Homo sapiens: one gene and its partners. The protein of the gene in region 1 purifies or fractionates together with the protein of each later gene. This does not show direct contact. Each region holds a gene or a part of one and is shown in the gene's direction. Other genes may lie near its edges. The genes, in order: STMN2, CHD5, DENND10 and ASRGL1.

Evidence for each region.
Region 2: the proteins of STMN2 (region 1) and CHD5 purify together in Homo sapiens (co-immunoprecipitation; one large-scale study listed by IntAct). This does not show direct contact.
Region 3: the proteins of STMN2 (region 1) and DENND10 purify together in Homo sapiens (affinity purification with mass spectrometry; one large-scale study listed by BioGRID and IntAct). This does not show direct contact.
Region 4: the proteins of STMN2 (region 1) and ASRGL1 purify together in Homo sapiens (affinity purification with mass spectrometry; one large-scale study listed by BioGRID and IntAct). This does not show direct contact.

The regions. Positions count from the first base shown.
Region 1 is NC_000008.11:79,613,243-79,618,094, forward strand, and holds part of STMN2 (stathmin-2), read left to right. Parts: intron 1-4,852. UniProt on the Homo sapiens protein: Regulator of microtubule stability. When phosphorylated by MAPK8, stabilizes microtubules and consequently controls neurite length in cortical neurons.
Region 2 is NC_000001.11:6,120,718-6,125,569, reverse strand, and holds part of CHD5 (chromodomain-helicase-DNA-binding protein 5), read left to right. Parts: coding exon 1-46; intron 47-336; coding exon 337-470; intron 471-908; coding exon 909-1,053; intron 1,054-1,462; coding exon 1,463-1,622; intron 1,623-3,996; coding exon 3,997-4,076; intron 4,077-4,332; coding exon 4,333-4,465; intron 4,466-4,852. UniProt on the Homo sapiens protein: ATP-dependent chromatin-remodeling factor that binds DNA through histones and regulates gene transcription. May specifically recognize and bind trimethylated 'Lys-27' (H3K27me3) and non-methylated 'Lys-4' of histone H3.
Region 3 is NC_000010.11:119,102,221-119,107,624, forward strand, and holds the start of DENND10 (DENN domain-containing protein 10), read left to right. Parts: upstream 1-1,892; 5' UTR 1,893-1,922; coding exon 1,923-1,977; intron 1,978-2,544; exon of another isoform or gene 2,545-2,802; intron 2,803-3,090; exon of another isoform or gene 3,091-3,264; coding exon of another isoform or gene 3,265-3,275; intron 3,276-5,404. UniProt on the Homo sapiens protein: Guanine nucleotide exchange factor (GEF) regulating homeostasis of late endocytic pathway, including endosomal positioning, maturation and secretion, possibly through activating Rab proteins such as RAB27A and RAB27B.
Region 4 is NC_000011.10:62,356,944-62,361,795, forward strand, and holds part of ASRGL1 (isoaspartyl peptidase/L-asparaginase), read left to right. Parts: intron 1-43; coding exon 44-201; intron 202-1,573; exon of another isoform or gene 1,574-1,938; intron 1,939-3,761; exon of another isoform or gene 3,762-3,988; intron 3,989-4,852. UniProt on the Homo sapiens protein: Has both L-asparaginase and beta-aspartyl peptidase activity. May be involved in the production of L-aspartate, which can act as an excitatory neurotransmitter in some brain regions. Is highly active with L-Asp beta-methyl ester.

The DNA.
Region 1 (4,852 bases):
CGGGGCGCGGCTCGGCCCCACCCCTCCCAGCTGAGGCCCAGAGCCGCCTACCGCTGGCCGGGTGGGGGCGCACGTGGCGACTGGGTGTGTGGAGCGCAGCCAGCCCTGCAGAGCCCCGCGCCGCGCCCTGCGCTCCCCTCCCCGGAGTTGGGCGCTCGCCCCCGCGGTGCAGCCGGGGAGACCGGTTTCTGCGCAGTGTCCTGAGCTACCCCCGCTTTCCACAATTCGCAGTTCACTCGCACGTCCAGAAAGGTTCTGAGAATGGGTGGTGGGGGCGATCTCGCCTCGCTTTCTGCACCCCTCAGAAAGGTTTCCGCTGCAGGCTAGTGGCTGCAAACTCATCGTCATCATCAGTATTATTATCATTTCAAATCGTTGTTATTATTTAATGATTCAGTAGCCTTGTTTGTTCTCATTTGTTCAAAAGGGACGTGGATTGCTCTTGGTTAAGGATTAACCCTTGTTGCGTTCGCTTTGCTTCCTCCTAATTGCCCTCATCCCTTTCCCCCACAAAAAGGTAAATTTGTCTCCAGTTGTTCATTTTAAGTTATAAAGCAAATATATTTTTGCTTCCTGCCAGGATTATGTATGTTCATGTGGCTAAGATACATGTGCAAGTGCTTGCTAAGAGCAGGGTTTGTGTGCCAACGATTGCTGGAAAATTCTCTGCAAAGAATTGTTTGTGGCTGCAATGGGTGAGAATACACATATATAATTGAGATGATCTTCAACATAAGGTTATATCTATAAATATATAAATATAGTTTATGCACAAAATTTTAAGTTTTTTCCCCTGAAACTGTTCTTCCAACTGCTGATTCTTGATACAGCCTCAATCCTACACAGATACATGGATCGTGAAATGGTAGCCGCCATCCAAATAAAAATCCCACCCCAAATATGACAAACGCAAGCATCCTTTCTGGCCATAATTTAACTGCATTTGCAAATCATGAAAAAAACACTACTTCTGCAGTATTAAAATAATAGATTTTGAAATTAATTCCAATTTCAAAGATAATTAATTATCAGGGCGAGTGCTTTTTTCCTGATTCATTAAACAATTATGTATTCAGCATGATTGTAAGAGGTGCATATAATATTCCCCATTATCTTTTCTAATGAAGTGGGCACCTTCTGAATGGATATATAAGTAACTAGAAATGAAAAGCTGAGGATTTGGTCAGAATTTCAGGATAAAACTGAAAGAAATGGCAGTAGTTTATCAATTAATCTCATGTATTTAGTTTATACCAGGTGAGTAAGCTGAGCCTGCAATAAACACTCTCTGTCCCAGTGTAACACGTCGCAGGTAGCTAGAATGATAGGATAAATTAATAGACCTTGTGGTGTTTGTCTATGCACGTTAAAATTCTCTGAGAGAAAGTATATTTTAAAATGATAATTAAGATTGGACATTTGTGCTATTAAAATCTACAACTTTAGTCAAAATTCACAATGGTTTTTTTTTACAATAATGTGACTTACAGATTTGTAGTAAATTATTCTATTCTAAAAGAGAAATGAGTGTTTTTATTGTTACAGCTATTACCTCATTAATATTTTTAGCAAACTTTTATTTGTTGCATTGAAAGCAGTTTTAATTACTTTGGGTTTTTATTTTTCAAATTACTAATGGATAGATGGTGGAATAAGCATTTAATCATTTGGCACAATATGACTTCCATCAAATAGCTCATTCTCAGTGATTAAAAAATGCTACAAGAGGCTACAATTTACTCAGATTCAGGAAATGTCCTTTCAGAGTGCCATAAGGCTGATTCATATAATAAAATAGTTTTCTTCCCTATAATTTAAGATCAAATAGTTACTTAGTTCTGTGAATACCTAGCAGTAGCTATCAAACAGAATTTTAAAGTTAAATCTGTACAACTAACAATGAAGTGGAGGATGAATCGATACATATTGAATGGAAGACTTTGTCATTGATAAATTCAGGCCATCTTTAGGAAAATTCCGGATTTATCAATCACCATTATTTTTTACTTCAACTGAGTGTGACTGATCACATGCTCAGGCTACCTTGGTAGCTCATTGCTCACAGGAGGCTGAAAAAAGCTGGCCTCCGAGCAGGAGGAAGCTCAGAGCACAAACCTAGGCCTGGGCGTGGCCACTGGGAGCTGCTGATAGCGAACCCCAGCTCACACCAGTTTCTTTTTTGGTCGTGGGAAGAAAAACACATATTATCCTGTTGTCACAAGATCTGTGACCTTATATGAAAAAATGCTAGAATTTTTTCATTAAAAAAGAAAATACTGAACTAGCCAGTGACCCAGATGTTTTCAGAACCTAGACTGGTTCTGTCCATTGGAAAACCTCGGTGTCTGCATTAACTTTTCACCACACTAGAGGGCAATCATGTTCTCTAAAAAAGCAGATGATTGATGTAAACCTAGTTCCAAATATTAACTGTTTAATAAAATCTTTTCTTTTACCAGGAACATTCAAGTGTTTATTCAATAAGCTGATGCCATGCTTTACCCTAGTGGATGAACAGAGCTTGTACAATTTTCAAGGAGACAGGATGAAATGAGTGGTCATAATCTGAAAGTAGATACACGCCCTGGTTAATTATTCCCTGATGGTTTTACTTCTCAGTTTTATTACATTGTTATTATAATACCATTTATGTTACTTCTGAGATTTTGTAGTGGATAAATAGTAGAAAAATGTCAGTAGTAATAGCAAAGTTATTTAGCAGCCGAATATTTTAATGCTTAAAAATAAAGGAATAAATTAAAGAAAATCATTGTTTACTTCTTCATCGATTGAAATGTGCCCCCTGTTCAGAGCACATCTGAATATCAGAGTCTCCACCTGCAGAGAACATGCAGCTTAGCGAGTAAAACAGGCAGGTATGTGATACTGAGGAGGTGTACCAAAAACTGACTGCTGTTATTTTTCCCATCTTCTAAGTCTGTCTTTCTTTTCCATTTAAAGATACCTTTTTAAATCTAATCCAATGTGATTTCAATCTAGTTTTATCAGATTTCAACAATTATTGAGCATCTCCTTGTAGTGGTTTTCTGTTTATTAGAAAATCGATGTTAATTTTAACGAAGTAAGAAGAAATATATAAGTATAAACTAATTTTGGGTATCATCAAAAGTGGATTTTTTAAATATGCATTGATAGAATTATTTTTTGATTACATTTTATGTAATTCTAATCCAGCTATAAAATATTTAATAGTGTCATATTACTGTGTTCCTCAAACTTTGATGTGCATATGAATTACCTTTGATTTTCATTAAAATGCAAATTCTGATTCAATACATCTGGCTTGAGGCAGACATTCTGTCTTCCGAACAAGCTCCCAGATGATGCTGATTCTGACCACTAAACACATCAGTTTTAGGGATATTAACTTGTAATATACAGGTATCCCTCCTGGTAAGCTCTGGTATTATGTCTTAACATTTTTAAATCTATGGTAATCTTTACAAAATATTTTACTTCCGAACTCATATACCTGGGGATTTTATTACTCTGGGAATTATGTGTTCTGCCCCATCACTCTCTCTTAATTGGATTTTTAAAATTATATTCATATTGCAGGACTCGGCAGAAGACCTTCGAGAGAAAGGTAGAAAATAAGAATTTGGCTCTCTGTGTGAGCATGTGTGCGTGTGTGCGAGAGAGAGAGACAGACAGCCTGCCTAAGAAGAAATGAATGTGAATGCGGCTTGTGGCACAGTTGACAAGGATGATAAATCAATAATGCAAGCTTACTATCATTTATGAATAGCAATACTGAAGAAATTAAAACAAAAGATTGCTGTCTCAATATATCTTATATTTATTATTTACCAAATTATTCTAAGAGTATTTCTTCCTGAATACCATGTGAGAAAATTCTTAAGAATTTATTGAGTATGACTGTATATTTGAAAAGAGTGTTTTCTTCTGCTTATCTAAGCCAATAAAGGATCTTCATTATTCAATTCTAACTTTCTAAGGAAGTCAACCTACAGATCAGAAAGAGGATCTTCAAGGAATAGCATCAAAGACATAGTCAGGTCTCCCATGCAGTGACTGGCTGACCATGCAGCCATTACCACCTTTCTGGAAATATTATGCTGCAAAAATGATACAATACACGAAATATCTCAAATTAAAAAATATAACATTTCCCAAATAGGGCACTAAAAACATGATCCCAAATAAAACTAGCTTCAGGGTTTGCAGAATATACTGTTACTCAACACAAAGTTGGACTAAGTCTCAAAGTTAGCCATTCAGTTGTTGTTAACAGTTCATTTCAGGGTCTCTCAGAAGCTGGGAAACTTTCCATTTTTGCAATTTCTTGTACATTGAAGGAAAGGAAGACACACTTAAGACAGCATTACAAAAGTAATTCATGTTTTAAATGTTTAATTCTGGCAGTCGGGCAGGGCTCTCTGTATAACCTCATTTGGAGATGACAAAAATCTAAACTTGAGGGCCTCGAGCCAATAAGTCTTCCTATTTCTTTACTCAAACATTTTCCCGCAATGGTGCTTTCTTTCAACTGTTTTTCTGGTGTATTCATAAATTCCAGATTCTCTATGGGAAGTAACTTTTATTGATTGATTTAACCCTTGTATAGCACATATAACATGCAAGGCATTGTTCTAAGAACTTTCCACATATTAACTGTGTTAATCACTTAATAATCCTAAGTAGGTTCTATTACAGATATGGAAACTGAGGCACAGAAAGTTGAAGTATCTTACTCAAGGTCACACAGTTAGTCAGATCCAGAATTTGGGCCCAGGCCATCTGGCTTCGGAATCCATCTTTCACCGATTGCTGCTAGTCTCATATCTGTTCCATGTTAGAGGTGAGCTCC
Region 2 (4,852 bases), on another chromosome or scaffold:
CAAGCCCCTGCCCCCGCTTCTCGCCCGAGTTGGTGGCAACATCGAGGTGGGGCCTGTCTGTTCCCGCATCTCTTTCTGCCCCTGCTTCCTGCTGCCCCTGGGGTATGGAGGAGGGCTGGGGGACTGCCCCGGGTCTCATGCCAGGTAGAGGCGGAGCTTGGACAGAACTTGGTCTGGTCTTCGCCGTCAGGGTCCTGCCCCAGGTGGAGGCCCCTGCCTTCTCTGTGCCCCCTTCCTACCTTCTCCTCCTCCCATGCTTTTCTTCCCCCATCCCAGAATCCTCCACCCCCACCCCTCTCTGTCCTGGGCTCATACTCCCACGCTCCACTCGCCCAGGTGCTGGGCTTCAATGCCCGACAGCGGAAGGCCTTTCTGAACGCCATCATGCGCTGGGGCATGCCCCCGCAGGACGCCTTCAACTCCCACTGGCTGGTGCGGGACCTTCGAGGGAAGAGCGAGAAGGAGTTTAGGTAAAGGGGCTAGGTGGTGGCCCAGGGTGTGACCACCTGCCCCTGAGTAGGGCAGGGTCCTGCGGGTGAGCCCCACAGAGGGCAGCATTTGCTTCCGCCAGGATGAGGCCGTCTGGAAAGTTCACTGCCACTTGGACTTTGGGTGGCTAGAGTCCTGGTGCCGGGCAGGGCTGATTTGCAAACACTGACCATCCGCCCCTGCCCAAACCAGCTGGTGTTATGGCAGCGAGGAAGATCCCGGTCACCCAGGGCTGTCCTAGGAGGTCCCCTCGCCAGGGAGGCCCTCTCTGTCCTTTCCCGGGCCTGGCCCAGGCCTGACTAGGAGGTGGGCGATGGTTGAAGATCAGCCAGGAGTTCCCCTGGGGTCCTGCCAGCCCTCTCAGAGGGTTCTTGCCGGCCCCCCACTCCCTGAGCCCCAGTCCCCCCCCCCCACCCCAGAGCCTATGTGTCCCTCTTCATGCGGCACCTGTGTGAGCCGGGGGCGGATGGTGCAGAGACCTTCGCAGACGGCGTGCCCCGGGAGGGCCTCTCCAGGCAGCACGTGCTGACCCGCATCGGGGTCATGTCACTAGTTAGGAAGAAGGTGGGTGAGTAACTCTCTGTAGGGCCCTTCCTGGTGGCTGCCTGGGCTCCTGGTGCTGTCCCTTGTGGGTCAGTGGTCAGAGAACAAGTGCCTGGTTCAGGCCACACAGCTGCCCAGGGTCCGAGTCACTCCAGAGGGACTGACCTGGAAAGCCTTTCTGGGTGAGGGGCCTGTGGGGTGGAGGCCAGGATGGTGGGTTACATACAGTTGGAGGACACACAGAGGGTGGGAGGGTGGGCAGGGGAGCTTGTGGTCAGGAGGGGCCTGGCTTGGCCAGCCTTGGGCGGAGGTAGCAGCTACCCCAAGCCTGTGACACTTTCAGCCCCCCTGGCTGCCCTGAGGCCCTTAGGGCTGAGTTGCCACCACTGCCCTCCCTCTTTCCCTTCCACCTTCCCTCCCACCACCCCAGGTTCAGGAGTTTGAGCATGTCAACGGGAAGTACAGCACCCCAGACTTGATCCCTGAGGGGCCCGAGGGGAAGAAGTCGGGCGAGGTGATCTCCTCGGACCCCAACACACCAGTGCCCGCCAGCCCTGCCCACCTCCTGCCAGCCCCGCTGGGCCTGCCAGGTCTGTGGGCTGGGCGGGCCGGGGAGGGCACTGGGGTCATGGAAAGTGGCAAGGTCACAGAAACCCCTAGTCTAACCCACAATCCCACAGAAGACGGCCTCTCCTTCCCCCAAAGCCTCTGTTTGCTGAAATGTCACTCTACAGAGAGTTTTCCATTTTAATGACAGTTACGAGATATAATTTATATACATACTGCAAAATTCACTCTTTTAAAAAACTGGCTGGGCGCGGTGGCTCACACCTGTTAATCACAGCACTTTAGGAGGCTGAGGCGGCAGGATCACCTGAGCTCAGGAGTTTGAGACCAACCTGGCCAACATGGTGAAACCCCGTCTCTACTAAAAATACAAAAGATTAGCCGGGCATGGTGGCACGTGCCTGTAATCCCGGCTGCTCGGGAGGCTGAGGCAGGAGAATCGCTTGAACCTGGGAAGCGGAGGTTGCAGTGAGCCAAGATCACACCACTGCACTCCAGCCTGGGGGGACAAAGCAAGACTCCATCTCAAAAAAAAAAAAGTACTATTCAGTGATTTCTAGTATATTCGTAGGGTGTACAACCATCGCCACTGCCTAAGGCCGGAATATTTTCATTCCCCCTGAAAAAGAAACCCTGTACCCATTAGCAGCCACTCCTTATCCCCCCACCCCAGGCCTGGGCAGCCACTAACCTGCTTCCTGTTTCTGGATTTCGCAATGCTGGATGGTTCGTGTATATGGCACTGCACAGTGCGTGGGCCTTTCTGTCTGGCTTCTGTCACTCAGCCTGGGGGTTCCAGGTTCATCCACATTGCAGCGTGCATCAGTGCTTCAGTCATTCTGTCATTCTGCCTTATGGCTGATAATGTTTTCTTTTTCTTTCTTTCTTCCTTTTTTTTTTTTTGAGATGGAGTTTCGCTCTTGTTGCCCAGGCTGGAGTGCGATGGAGTGATCTCGGCTCACTGCAACCTCCGCCTCCCAGGTTCAAGCGATCCTGCCTCAGCTTCCCGAGTAGCTGGGATTACAGGTGCCCGCCACCACACCTGGCTGATTTTTGTATTTTTAGTAGAGACGGGGTTTCGCCATGTTGGCCAGGCTGGTCTTGAATTCCTGACCTCAGGTGATCCACCCTCCTCGGCCTCCCAACGTGCTGGGATTATAGGCGTGAGCCACCGCGCCTGGCCGATAACGTTTTCTTGTATGAATTTACTGCATTTTGCTTATCCATTGCGCTGTCGATAGATTTTGGATTGTTTCTACTTTTTGGCTGCTGTGAATAATGCTGCTGTGTTTTATGTTTTTGCGTGGACATACGTTTTGAGTTCTTTTGGGCAGATATCTAGGAATGGAATTGCTGGGCCGTGTGATAACCCTGTTTTCCCTTTTGAGAAACTACTAGACTGTTTTCCAAAGCAGCTGTACCATTTTACATTCCTGCTAGTATTGTGCGGGAGTCCCAGGTTCTCCACGTCTTCAGCAGTAATTGTTCTCTGCCTTCATGGTTCTAGCTGTCCTGGGAGCATGAGGTGGTGTCTCACTGTGGTTCTGATTGGCATTTCCCTGATGCCAAGGACGCTGAATGTTGTTCGGTGTGCGTATTGGCTGTTTGTAGACTTGTAGAAATGTCTTTTCAGATTCTTTGCACACTTAATTGGGTCATTTGTGCCCGTGTCACTTTGGTGATCTAGGTATTTATTTGGGTGAAGCAAATACCTGTTAAGTACTTGGTCCGTCGGTTGGGCCTCACAGGCCTGGGGCGGACATAGCTATCCCATGGTGATGGGTGAGGCCAGGCCCTGAGAAGCTGCACCTCCAAGCACAAGGGAGCCCTTGGAGGTGGACACATCTTGGTTTGCTTCTTGGCTTTGGCCTGAACTCTGTCTAACCTTGGGCAAGTCACCTAACCTCTGTGGGCCTCCGCTTTCCCGGCTGTGCCCACCTCCCGGGGCTTCTCAGAGCTGTGTAAGTGACCAGCACTTTGCAGTGTGTTGGCGGCTGGCTTGGCAGGGAGGAAATTCACCCCCTGTCCAGAGGCACACACCAGCCAGCCCGCCCGAAAGCTGGGACCAGAGCGGGTGTCGTGGCTCCCAATCTGGGCCTCCATCTGCCTCACTTCCCTGCCTCCAGATGAGCAGCCACGGCTGTGTGCGGCCCCGTCCTGACAGCCCCTCACTTTGGTCTTACTGGGTTCAAGGTCCTCCAAGCACTCCTGAGTCAAAGGCCTGGCCTGGCCTCTCTGACTTAGCCGGGGATCCTGCTTGTCTCTCCTGGAGGTGCTTGGCTGCAGTGGAGCCTCCCGAAGGCCAAGCCCCCATCTCTCCTCTCTGCCACCCCACTCCCTGCCCTACTCCTTCCCGTCTGAGCCCACCTGTCTCAGCTCTTTCCCTTGATCTTTCAGACAAAATGGAAGCCCAGCTGGGCTACATGGATGAGAAAGACCCCGGGGCACAGAAGCCAAGGCAGCCCCTGGAAGTCCAGGTGTGGAACTTGCTGGCGTCTGGGCCTGTGGTGTGTGTGGGGTGGAGGTTGGGTCTGGGGACCTTCTCAGGCCCTGTACAGCGAGGTGGAACCCAGGCCTCCTGGCTCCCTTTTCGGGGCTCTGAATCGGCGGGGAGCAGGCTAGGAGCAAGCGACGGGAGCCAGGAGACTGGGTTCCCAGCCCAGCGCACGTTCCCCGCCCTCCGTTCCTGGTGAGGCCCCAGGCCTTGTAGTTCTCCTGGCTTTTCCTCTGCAGGCCCTTCCAGCCGCCTTGGATAGAGTGGAGAGTGAGGACAAGCACGAGAGCCCAGCCAGCAAGGAGAGAGCCCGAGAGGAGCGGCCAGAGGAGACGGAGAAGGCCCCGCCCTCCCCGGAGCAGCTGCCGAGAGGTTGGGGCTTCTTGCAGGCCACCCACCCCAGTGCCATGTCTGGCCTCAGCAGGCCTGGGTTCAGAGAAGGGCAGGTGGCTGTACTTCCGCTCATTTCTCCCTGGCAGAGAGGTAGACTCCAACCCTCTGCAGGCCCCCTGGTGAGGGGAGGCCAGGAGCTCAGGCCTCTATACATGGACTTAATGGACTTTTTTTTTTTTTGGAGAAAGGGTTTCGCTCTGTCACCCAGGCTGGAATGCAGTGGTACCATCTCGGATCACTGCAACATCCGCCTCCCGGGTTCAAGTGATTCTTGTGCCTCAGTCTCCCTAGTAGCTGGGACTACAGGCGTGTACCACCACACCCAGCTAATTTTTGTATTTTTAGTAGAGACGAGATTTCATCATG
Region 3 (5,404 bases), on another chromosome or scaffold:
GACTACAGGCACCTGCCACCACGCCCGGCTAATTTTTTGTATTTTTAGTAGAGACAGGGTTTCACCGTTTTAGCCGGGTTGGTCTCAATCTCCTGACCTCGTGATCCACCCACCTCAGCCTCCCAAAGTGCTAGGATTACAGGCGTGAGCCACCGTGCCCCACCTAGTGCAAGTTTCTAGTTGGCTTCCAAACTGATTCCACATCTGTGTCCCACTCCTCAGCCTCTAAACACCTGCTTCTTTTCTGTGAAAACTAGACACATTAACAGTTATACTACAACAGGAAGCCCAGAGAATAGAAGGGCACGTAGTTCAGGGTGCTGCCTTCCAGGGGTTCAGTTTAGTGAGAGAAACAGGAATGCCATATACACACCTAAATATACTCCAATGTATAAATTGCAGCCTGGGCAACATAGCGAGAAACTGTCTCCAAAAAAAAAAGAAAGAAAAAAGAAAAAAACAGGCGCAGTGGCTCACGCCTGTAATCCCAGCTACGCAGGAGGCTGAGGCAGGAGAATCCCTTAAAACCGAGAGGCGGAGGTTGCAGTGAGCCGAGATCGCGCTATTGCACTCCAGGCCGGGCAACTGAACAAGACTCCATCTCAAAAAAAAAAAAAAAAAAAGAAAAAAGAAAAAAAGATGAGGGTGGGATTGTATTCCTGCAGACACCAAGGACCCTCCCTAATTAGCTCTGTGTGACTTGGGGTTGGGGCAGACAGTAGATCCAGAGGAGGAATCTTGGAGCCAAATCTTCCAATGTCTGAGTCGTTACTATCATTCAGATCTCAGTTCAAATATCCCTTTCTCAGAGAAGCCTTTCTTGACACCCATTTTAGAGCAGCACACCTCCACTCTCTAACACACTGCCTCCAGGGCACATATCGTTGCCTCCAGGGCACATATCATTCTGAGCTTTTTTACTATTATCTATCTATCTGTCATCTATTTATCTATTTATTTATTTTTGAGACAGGGTCTCACTCTGTCACCCAGGCTGGAGTGAGTGGCAGGATCACAGCTCACTGCAGCCTCAAAATCCTGGGCTCAAATGATTTTCCTGCCTCAGCCTGAGAGTAGCTGGGACTACAGGTGCATGCCACTATGCCTGGCTAATTTTTAAATTTTTTTTGTAGAGATGGGTCTCACTATGTTGCCAAGGCTGATCTCGAACTCCTGACCTCAAGTGATGCTCCTGCCTTGGCCTCCCATCGTGTTGGGATCAGAGGCGTGAGCCACCTCACCTGGCCTGGATTATTTATTCTACTCGCCAATTGTCTGTCTTCCCCAGTGGACTGCTCTGTCTTGTTCAGCCCTATAAGGTATCCCCAGTGCCTTATTAGGCCCTCAATTTTTGTTTTGTTTTGTTTTGGGGGTGGCTGGATGAAGGAATGGATGGAGACCCTTCCTCCATCCTCAGGACGCCTCTTTTTAGGAACAAGGTGACCTGTTCTTTTGAGCTTGACCAGAGGGCAGAGGTAGAACAAGGAAAGCCTACGACGGGAAGAAAGATTGGAGTGGATTGAGAAGAAGAAGGATGAACAGCTGGATTAGAGAAATTGAGGCAGGCTGCGGAGACTCAAGGAGGTTTCCAAGGGCGAAGGGCCACGGGCAGAAGACGAGTGGAGCTGCACTGAGCAGGTCCTGGCAGGGAGGACTGGGGCTGGAATAGGTGGGCCTGCGGGTGGGGCGGGGCCGACGGGGGGGGTTGATGGTCCTGTGATGGGGCGGGGCGGGAGGGAGGCGGGTCCTACAGCGGGAGGCGGGGCCTGTGATGGTCCGGGGAGGGAGGCGGGGCTTATGATGGGCCGGGGAGGGAGGCGGGGCCTGTGATGGGGGCGGGCCCTACGGCGGGCGGGGCGGGGTTCGGGTGCGAGGCCGGTCCTGCAGGCGGCAGCCAGAGCTGCGCGCCGCGGCGGCGGAAGATGGCTGCGGCCGAGGTGGCGGACACTCAGCTGATGCTTGGAGTCGGGCTGATCGGTGAGGACGTAGGCGCCCTGCCTGGAAGCCCGCACCCTGGTTCTGCCTCTGCTCCACCTCGGCCCGGGGCAGCCCGGGCTCCCGCGGCCCCCGGCGCCGACCGCATGAGGAGGGCGCGGCCCCCTCCCTGTTGGGCCTGGACTGGGGACTGCGGAGCCCGGCCTCCTTGGTGCAGGGGACCCGGCCCGCCGCCCTCGCCCGCCCGCCCGCGGCCGCCTGTGGGGCCTGCCCGGCCCGAGGGAGCCCGGGGACCTCCAAGATTCCGGGGTGGAGCTCCCCCTGCACGCCCCGGGTTGCCCGGCGGAGCCGGGACGTCGAGCGCTCCCAGGCTGGGCAGCTGCGAGGGGCGCTGCGCGGGCGGGGCCGGGCCGGGCGGGAGCAGCCGGCTGGCGGCGCGGCGCGGCGCGGCGGGGAGGAGGCAGGGTCCGGTTCCCCCGAGCCGGGGGCGGGCGGCTGCCTCGGAGCCACGGGTGACTGCCCGCCCGGGCGGCCCCCATCGTGGGACCGGGCAGCTGGAGACTGCTGGGCCGGGTGCTGCGCGTTGTACACACATTGTCTCCTTTTAGCTCTCACCAAGGACCGAGGGGCCGTGGGAAACGTCTGACGCCCACTTCACGGAGGAGCAAATGGAGGCCCAGGCCGTCATTGTGCACGGACACACCATAGGCCGTACAGAGCCGGGAGTGGGACCCTCGCAGTGTATCCCAGAGCCCCCAACCCCCACCAGTGGAGAGCTCCTGCATCATGTGATCGAGCTTGTGCATAAATAAAGCAGGAGTTTCTACACAATCCTGTGTGGTGGAATCTCGGTTAGCTCTGAGGAATGTAATTATCTTCCATAATTAAAAAATATCACACGGGGATCTTTGGGCAGCCTCGTGCAGTATTTAGGGGATGGAACCCGTTGGTTCCCTTCGAAAAAGTTTTATTTTCCCGAGATTTTTGCACACCCCTAAACTCTTTCTATTCCCCAAGTGCGCAATAACATTGCTTAGGCTTTAGCAAAACTGAAGAAATATGCTGATTATTTTTCAGTGCCTCAAAGCAGTGCGTTTATGTGGGAATCGCTTACTGTTTTTATTTCTTTGTCTTTCTTCTTTTTTTTTTTTTTAGACGGGGTCTCCCTCTTATCCAGGCTGGAGTGCAGTAGCGCAATCATCGCTCTCTGCAGCCTCCACCTCCCAGGCCCAAACCATCCTCCCGCCTCGGCCTCCGAGTAGCTGGGACCTCAGGCGTGCACCACCACCCGATTAATTTTTGTATTTTTTGTGGAGATGGGATACCGACATGTTGTCCAGGTGGATTACTGTATTTATTTCTAATGTGATTTTCAAACTGCTTCAAAACAAAACCTAAGTAACTTAGTTTCTCCAGAAGGTACTTTTGAACTAAGGCTAAGTTAAACTGTCTTTATCTACTAATAGCAAATAAAAAGATGACATATGATCATATTTTGAACTCAGCAGTTTTTTAATTATTCACACTAACGTGCATTTAAAAGGGGTTTGCAGCCAGCCTGGGCAATGTGGTAAAACCCTCGTGTCTCTACAAAAAATACAAAAATTAGCCGGGTGTGGTGTGCCTGTAGGTGGGAGGATTGCTTGGTCCCAGGAGGCAGAGGTTGCAGTGAACTGAGATCATGCCACTGTACTCCAGCATGGGTGACAGAGTGAGACCCCCCCCAACCCCGTCTCAAAAAAAGAAATTGAAAAAAGAGGCCAGGCGTGGTGGCTCATGCCTGTAATCCTAGCACTTTGGGAGGCTGAGGCAGGTGGATCAATTGAGGCTGGGAGTTGATCAGCCTGGCCAATATAGCGAGACCCTGTCTTCACTAAAAAGGCAAAAAATTAACTGGGCGTGGTGGTGCACACCTGTAATCTCAGCTACTTAGGAGGCTGAGGCAGGAGAATCACTTGAACCCGGGAGGTGGAAGTTGCAGTGAGCTGAGATCAGAGGTGGAGGTTGCAGTGAGCTGAGATTGCGCCACCGCACTGCAGCCCAAGTGACAGAGTTAGACCCTGTCTCAGAGAGAGAAAAAAAAACAGAATGTGAGTGTCTTTTTTAGTATAATGATTTCTTTTCCTTTCGGCAGATACCCAGTAATGGGATTACTGGGTGGAATGGTAATTCTGTTTTCAATAACAATTTTTTATTTGTAGTCTTTAGAGACAGGGTCTCTCTCTGTTGACTAGGCTGGAATGCAGTGGTGCATAGCTCACGACAACCTCTGAATCTTGGGCTAACTTGATCCTCCCACCTTAGCTTCCTGAGTAGCTGGGACCATAGGCACACACCACCATGTCCAGCTAATTAAAATTTTTTTTTTGTAGAGATGCGGTCTCACTATGTGGCCCAGGTTGGTCTGGAACTTCTGGCCTCAGGCGATCCTCCTGGGTTCCCAAAGTGTTAGGATTATAGGCATGAGCCATTATGCTTGGCCTAAACAATTTTAAATACAAAATTCACACAGTTGGTATGCAACATGGTTTGAAATATTTCACTATTTTCTTCATCTCTGGTTTTGTTTTCGACAAACCTTTTCTATGTATTTATTAAAAATTATTCGGCTGGGCACGGTGGCTCACGCCTATAATCCCAGCACTTTGGGGGGCCGAGGCAGGCAGATCATCTGAGGTGGGGAGTTCGAGACCAGCCTGACCAATGTGGAGAAACCAAAACCCCATCTTTACTAAAAATACAAAATTAGCCAGGAGTGGTGGTGCATGCCTGTAACCCCAGCCACTCGGGAGGCTGAAGCAGGAGAATAGCTTGAATCTGGGAGATGGAGGTTGTGGTGAGCTGAGATCACTGCATTGCACTCCAGCCTGGGCAATAAGAGCAAAACTCCATTTAAAGAATTATTCCGCCCAGCACTTTGGGAGGCCGAGGCGGGCAGATCACCTGAGGTCAGGAGTTCAAGACCAGCCTGGCTAACATGGCGAAACCCTGTCTCTACTAAAACTACAAAAATTAGCTGGGCATGGTGGTGGGCACCTGTAATCCCAGCTACTTGGGAGGCCAAGGCAGAAGAATCGTTTGAACCTGGGAGCCAAGATAGCACCAGTACACTCTAGCCTGGGTGACGGTGAGACTCCGCCTCAAAAAAAAAAAAAAGAATTATTCCAACTAGTTAAAAACTTAATGTAATTTTAGTTGATAAGCATTTGTGTGGGAGGAGATAGGGAGAAACTCTAACATCTTTCTTTGTCTTTTTTTTTTTTTTTGAGACCAAGTTTTGCTCTGTTGCCCAGGCTAGAGTGCAGTGGCGTGATCTTGGCTGACTGCAACCTCTGCCTCCCGGGTTCAAGCAATTCTCTTGCCTTAGCCTCCTGAGTAGCTGGGATTACAGGCATGCCCCACCACACCCGGATAATTTTTGTATTATTAGTAGAGATGGGGTTTCTCCAGGTTGGTCAGGCTGGTCTCG
Region 4 (4,852 bases), on another chromosome or scaffold:
ATTTTCAAAAAAACAATCATTTTCTCTTTTCTTTCTGGCTCAGACACCTCATTGCTTTCTGACTGACCAAGGCGCAGCGCAGTTTGCAGCAGCTATGGGGGTTCCAGAGATTCCTGGAGAAAAACTGGTGACAGAGAGAAACAAAAAGCGCCTGGAAAAAGAGAAGCATGAAAAAGGTGCTCAGAAAACAGATTGTCAAAAGTAAGTCTTACCTGTGGCTCGCATTATTTGGGAGTTATTAAAATATGAAAGTTTGGCAAATACCTGGTTATCTACAGTTCTTTTGTTTTGTTTTGTTTTGTTTTGTTTTGTTTTGTTTTGTTTGACACGGAGTCTCTCTCTGTTGCCCAGACTGGAGTACAGTGGTGCGATCTCGGCTCACTGCAGCCTCCGCCTCCCAGGCTCAAGCGGTTCTCCTGCCTCAGCCTCCTGAGTAGCTGGGACTACAGGCACACACCACTGCACCCGGCTCATTTTTTTTTTTTTTTTTTTTTTTTTAGTAGAGGCGGGGTTTCGCCGTGTTGGCCAGGCTGGTCTCAAACTCCTGACGTCAGGTGATCCACCTGCCTCGGCCTCCCAAAGTGCAGGGATTACAGGCATGAGCCACCGAGCCCAGCCTCTGACATGATTTAGTAGAAGAATTTCACGTATTAATGTATCAGTTATCTGGATTCTTCTTGATCAGTTTATCTTAAATAGACTAAACAGGTTATCTGTGATCTAGTGTACCTTATAAACTTAAGTACTCTTTCATAGTTTAGAGAAATCAGCACAACTCTTAGAAATTCAAATTAGTCATTTTCTGAATTACAGTTTTCTGTTACAGATTTTGAAATCCTAAATAAAGGACTGCTTATTTAAAGCAAAATTTGAAAGTAAAATGTGAATATGGCCTGGGAGTTTATAATGGAATTAAATCTATTGACTCCGCATACTTTTTAGAGTAATGATATTTAATCAGAGGTATACCTTGTATCACCTAGGGAGCTTTTTCAAAATATGCATGTTTAGGCCACCCCGCCAGAAGAATCAGATTTAAATAGATCTGAGGTGGAGAAGCCAGACAGGTATATTATAAAAAGGGTTCCCAGGTAATTCTGATGTGTTCCTCAGGTTCAGAGTCTGTTTTAAAAGATTGGCCTTGGCCGGGTGCGGTGGCTCACACCTGTAATCCCAGCACTTTGGGAGGCCGAGGCGGACGGATTGCCTCAGCTCAGGAGTTCAAGACCAGCCTAGGCAACACGGTGAAACCCCGTCTCTACTAAAGATACAAAAAATTAGCCAGGCATGATGGTGCGTGCCTGTAATCCCAGCTACTCGGGAGGCTGAGGCAGGAGAATCGCTTGAACCCGGGAGGCAGAGGTTGCGGTGAGCCAAGATCCCACCATTGCACTCTAGCCTGGGCAACAAAGCGAGACTCCGTCTCAGAAAAAAAAAAAAAAAAAAAAGATTGACCTTATGTTGGCAGCTGTTGACAGCCTGACTGAGTGTGCTTTTGTGTCTGTGGGCTAGAGTCATAGCAGTGGGGTTGCCTTATGCATGATTTACGTTCATTTTGAAAGATGTCACCACATTGCTTTCCAGAAATTTATTAACACCTCTCCACCAGCCACTGCTGCTTTACACGTAAGCAAGAGGGGTTCCTGCCATGGTCCCTGCACTTTAAAGGACCCTCATACCATAAACACACAAAACAATTGACTTATTCCAGAACACATAGGACCCCTTTGTCACTCAACATTGGCACAGCTTGACCAGTAACCCCAATCATTGCTCTTGTGACTAACACCACTCAGCCATCAAGGAAATCTCCACATCCGTTGCTCTATGTCTTGGAAGCAAAAGGCACCTGAGTTCAAAGTTTGTGGGTAGTGCCACTGTTGACATCAGAAATGGACATTGCTTTGGAGTGTGGGGAAGATTCGAACAGCAGAAGGACTTAGGTAAGAGAAAAAGACAAATTAATTAACTGATGAAATAGATTCTTGCATCACAAAGTATTATTTCCCTGTAGTGCTAGGTATCCATTTTCTTGCCTCTCTGCATGTTGGAATATTTAGTTCTGAAGATTGTTACAGAGAGGGTTCTGTGGTGTAATGGTTAGCACTCTGGACTCTGAAGATTTTCATGAGTTAGTGTAGTGTCTGTAGAAGTTGCACATGGGGACTGTTACTCTTCAGTTTGTGTATGGGTAGGTCTAGAACAGCACCATCCAGTAGAAATACTGTGAGAGCCACAAATGTAATTTGACATTTTCTAGTGGCCACATCCACAGTGGATCACATCTGAGGTCAGGAGTTCAAGACCAGCCTGACTAACATGGTGAGCCCTGTCTCTACTAAAAATACAAAAATCAGCCAGGCATGGTGGTGGGCACCTGTAATCCCAGCTACTCAGAAGACTGAGGCAGGAGAATCGCTTGAACCCAGGAGGCAGAGGTTGCAGTGAGCCAAGATCGCGCCATTGCACTCCAGCCTGGGCAACAAGAGCGAAACTTTGTCTCAAAAAAAAAAAGTGAAATTAATAATATATTTTATTTAACCAAATATATCCAAAATATTTCAACATGTAATGCATATAAGAAATTATAAGATGTCTTGCTCTTTTTTTGTACTAAATCTTCAAAATCTGGTGTGTTTTACACTTACAGTACATCTCACTGAGGACAGCCACATTTAGCTAGCAGCCACTCAGTAGCCACATGGAGCTGCAGCTTCTGTAAGTGCACAGCACAGGTCTAGACAGAACCTGTGTGAGAAAAACTGATAACAGAGAAAAACAAAAAGCTCCTGTAGTTGCTAACTCTCCGTGTTAGCAACTACATGGATGTTGACTGTTAGAATTATGAATGGTTTTATTTTGATGAAAATATTTAAAAGATGCAGTTAATTTCAAAAATACAGTGGTAAAATTTTTAGCTTTCATGTAATTTTAGCCTTTATGTATTGTATTTACTAATTATAATTCATATTTTAACTTTAACATTAATAAAAATTTTGTATATTTTACAATTACTTTTGTAACTTTTTGGAAATTATATCTGCAAATTACTTCTTTTTTTTGTTTTTTGCTTTTCTTTTTTTTTTTTTTGGTTTTGTTTGTTTTTGAGACAGAGTCACACTGTGTTGCCCAGGCTGGAGTGCAGTGGCACGATCTCGGCTTACTGCAACCTCTGCCTCCCAGGTTCTAGCAGTTCTCCTCAGCCTCCTGAGTAGCTGGTATTACAGGTGTGCGCCACCACGCCTGGGTAATTTTTGTATTTTTAGTAGAGAGAGGGTTTCACCATGTTGGCCAGACTGGTCTCGAACTCCTGACCTCAGGTGATCCGCCCACCTCGGCCTCCCAAAGTGCTAGGATTATAGGTATGAGCCACCATGCCCGGCCAACTTTTTTTTTTTTTAATTTTTTTAGATTAGCTCTTTATTTTTTTATGAAAATACATTCTCATTTTTTTATACTTTGGATATAATTATATTTCACTTTTAATCCCTTAGATTATTGAAAATGAGTATAAGTCAAGATTTTGGTAGAAAAAGAATGCTATAAAGTGGAGCTCACAAAAGAAAAAATGAAAAAGAAAGTAAAAATCTTCAAAGAAGCAGGCTGCTTGCATTTTCCAACACTGGAAGCAGTAAAAGCAAGCAGTCTTCTTCCAGGGTGACCCACATAAAATTCACAAACAAGACATTACAAAGGTTTTGTTCAATTAAGATCTACTTATTAATCAAAACAATTAAAATTAGTAAGAAAATTATTCTCACCAAATCCACAGTTTGAACAAGTCAGATGAAATCATGGCAACCTCCTTCTTTACTAACGGAAGATTTAATTGCTAATCATGAAGAATCACACACAATAAAACACACACCCTGTTACAGGAATTGAGGGAAAGAGGCCGAATAAACAATTGATTTTACCGGAAACAGAAAACAATATAAAATACTGATGTAATGTTCTTGAAAGAATAATACAATGTATCCAATATTTAGCCAAGCCTAATCATTCTTTTCATGACACCGTCAGTACAGTGTGTGCAAAAAACAATGGAAATTTTCTAGGTTTCAGTAAAAGAGATTTCAAAATTTGGTAAAATGCCAAACATATAATTAAGACAAAAATAATGAAAGTAATGATCATTACCTAGGATAGAGAATTCCAACAGATTATGAGTTTAATGGAGAATAAAGTGAGACATGAAATCATTTGTAAAAATTTTTTTGTCAATAAATTTTTTGGTTTTGTGGGGTTTTGTTTTTTTGTTTTTTTGAGACAAGGTCTTACTTTGTCACCCAGGCTCGAGTGCAGTGTTACAGTCGTAGCTCACTGCAGCCTCAATCTCCCAGGCTCAAGTGATCCTCCCATCTCAGCCTCCCAAGTAGGTGGGACTACAGGCATGCACCATGCCTGGCTAATTTTATTTTTAGTAGAGACGGGGTCTTGCCATGTTGCCCAGGCTCGTCTTAAGCTCCTGAGCTCAAGGGATCTTCCCTCCTGCTTGGCCTTCCAAAGTGCTTTGGTGAGCCACCAAACCTGGCCAATTTTTTTTTTTTTTTTTTTTTTTTTGAGACAGAATCTTGTTCTGTCAACAGGCTGGAGTGCAGTGGTACAATCTCGGCTCACTGCAACCTCCGCCTCCCAGGTTCAAGAGATTCTTCTGCCTCAGCCTCCCGAGTAGCTGGGACTACAGGCGCATGCCACCATGCCCGGCTAATTTTTGTATTTTTAGTAGAGAGGGGGTTTCACCATGTTGGCCAGGCTGGTCTCAAACTCCTGACCTCGTGATCTGCCTGCCTCAGCCCCCTAAAGTACTGGGATTACAGGCGTGAGCCACTGTGCCCAGCCCAAAGTTTTT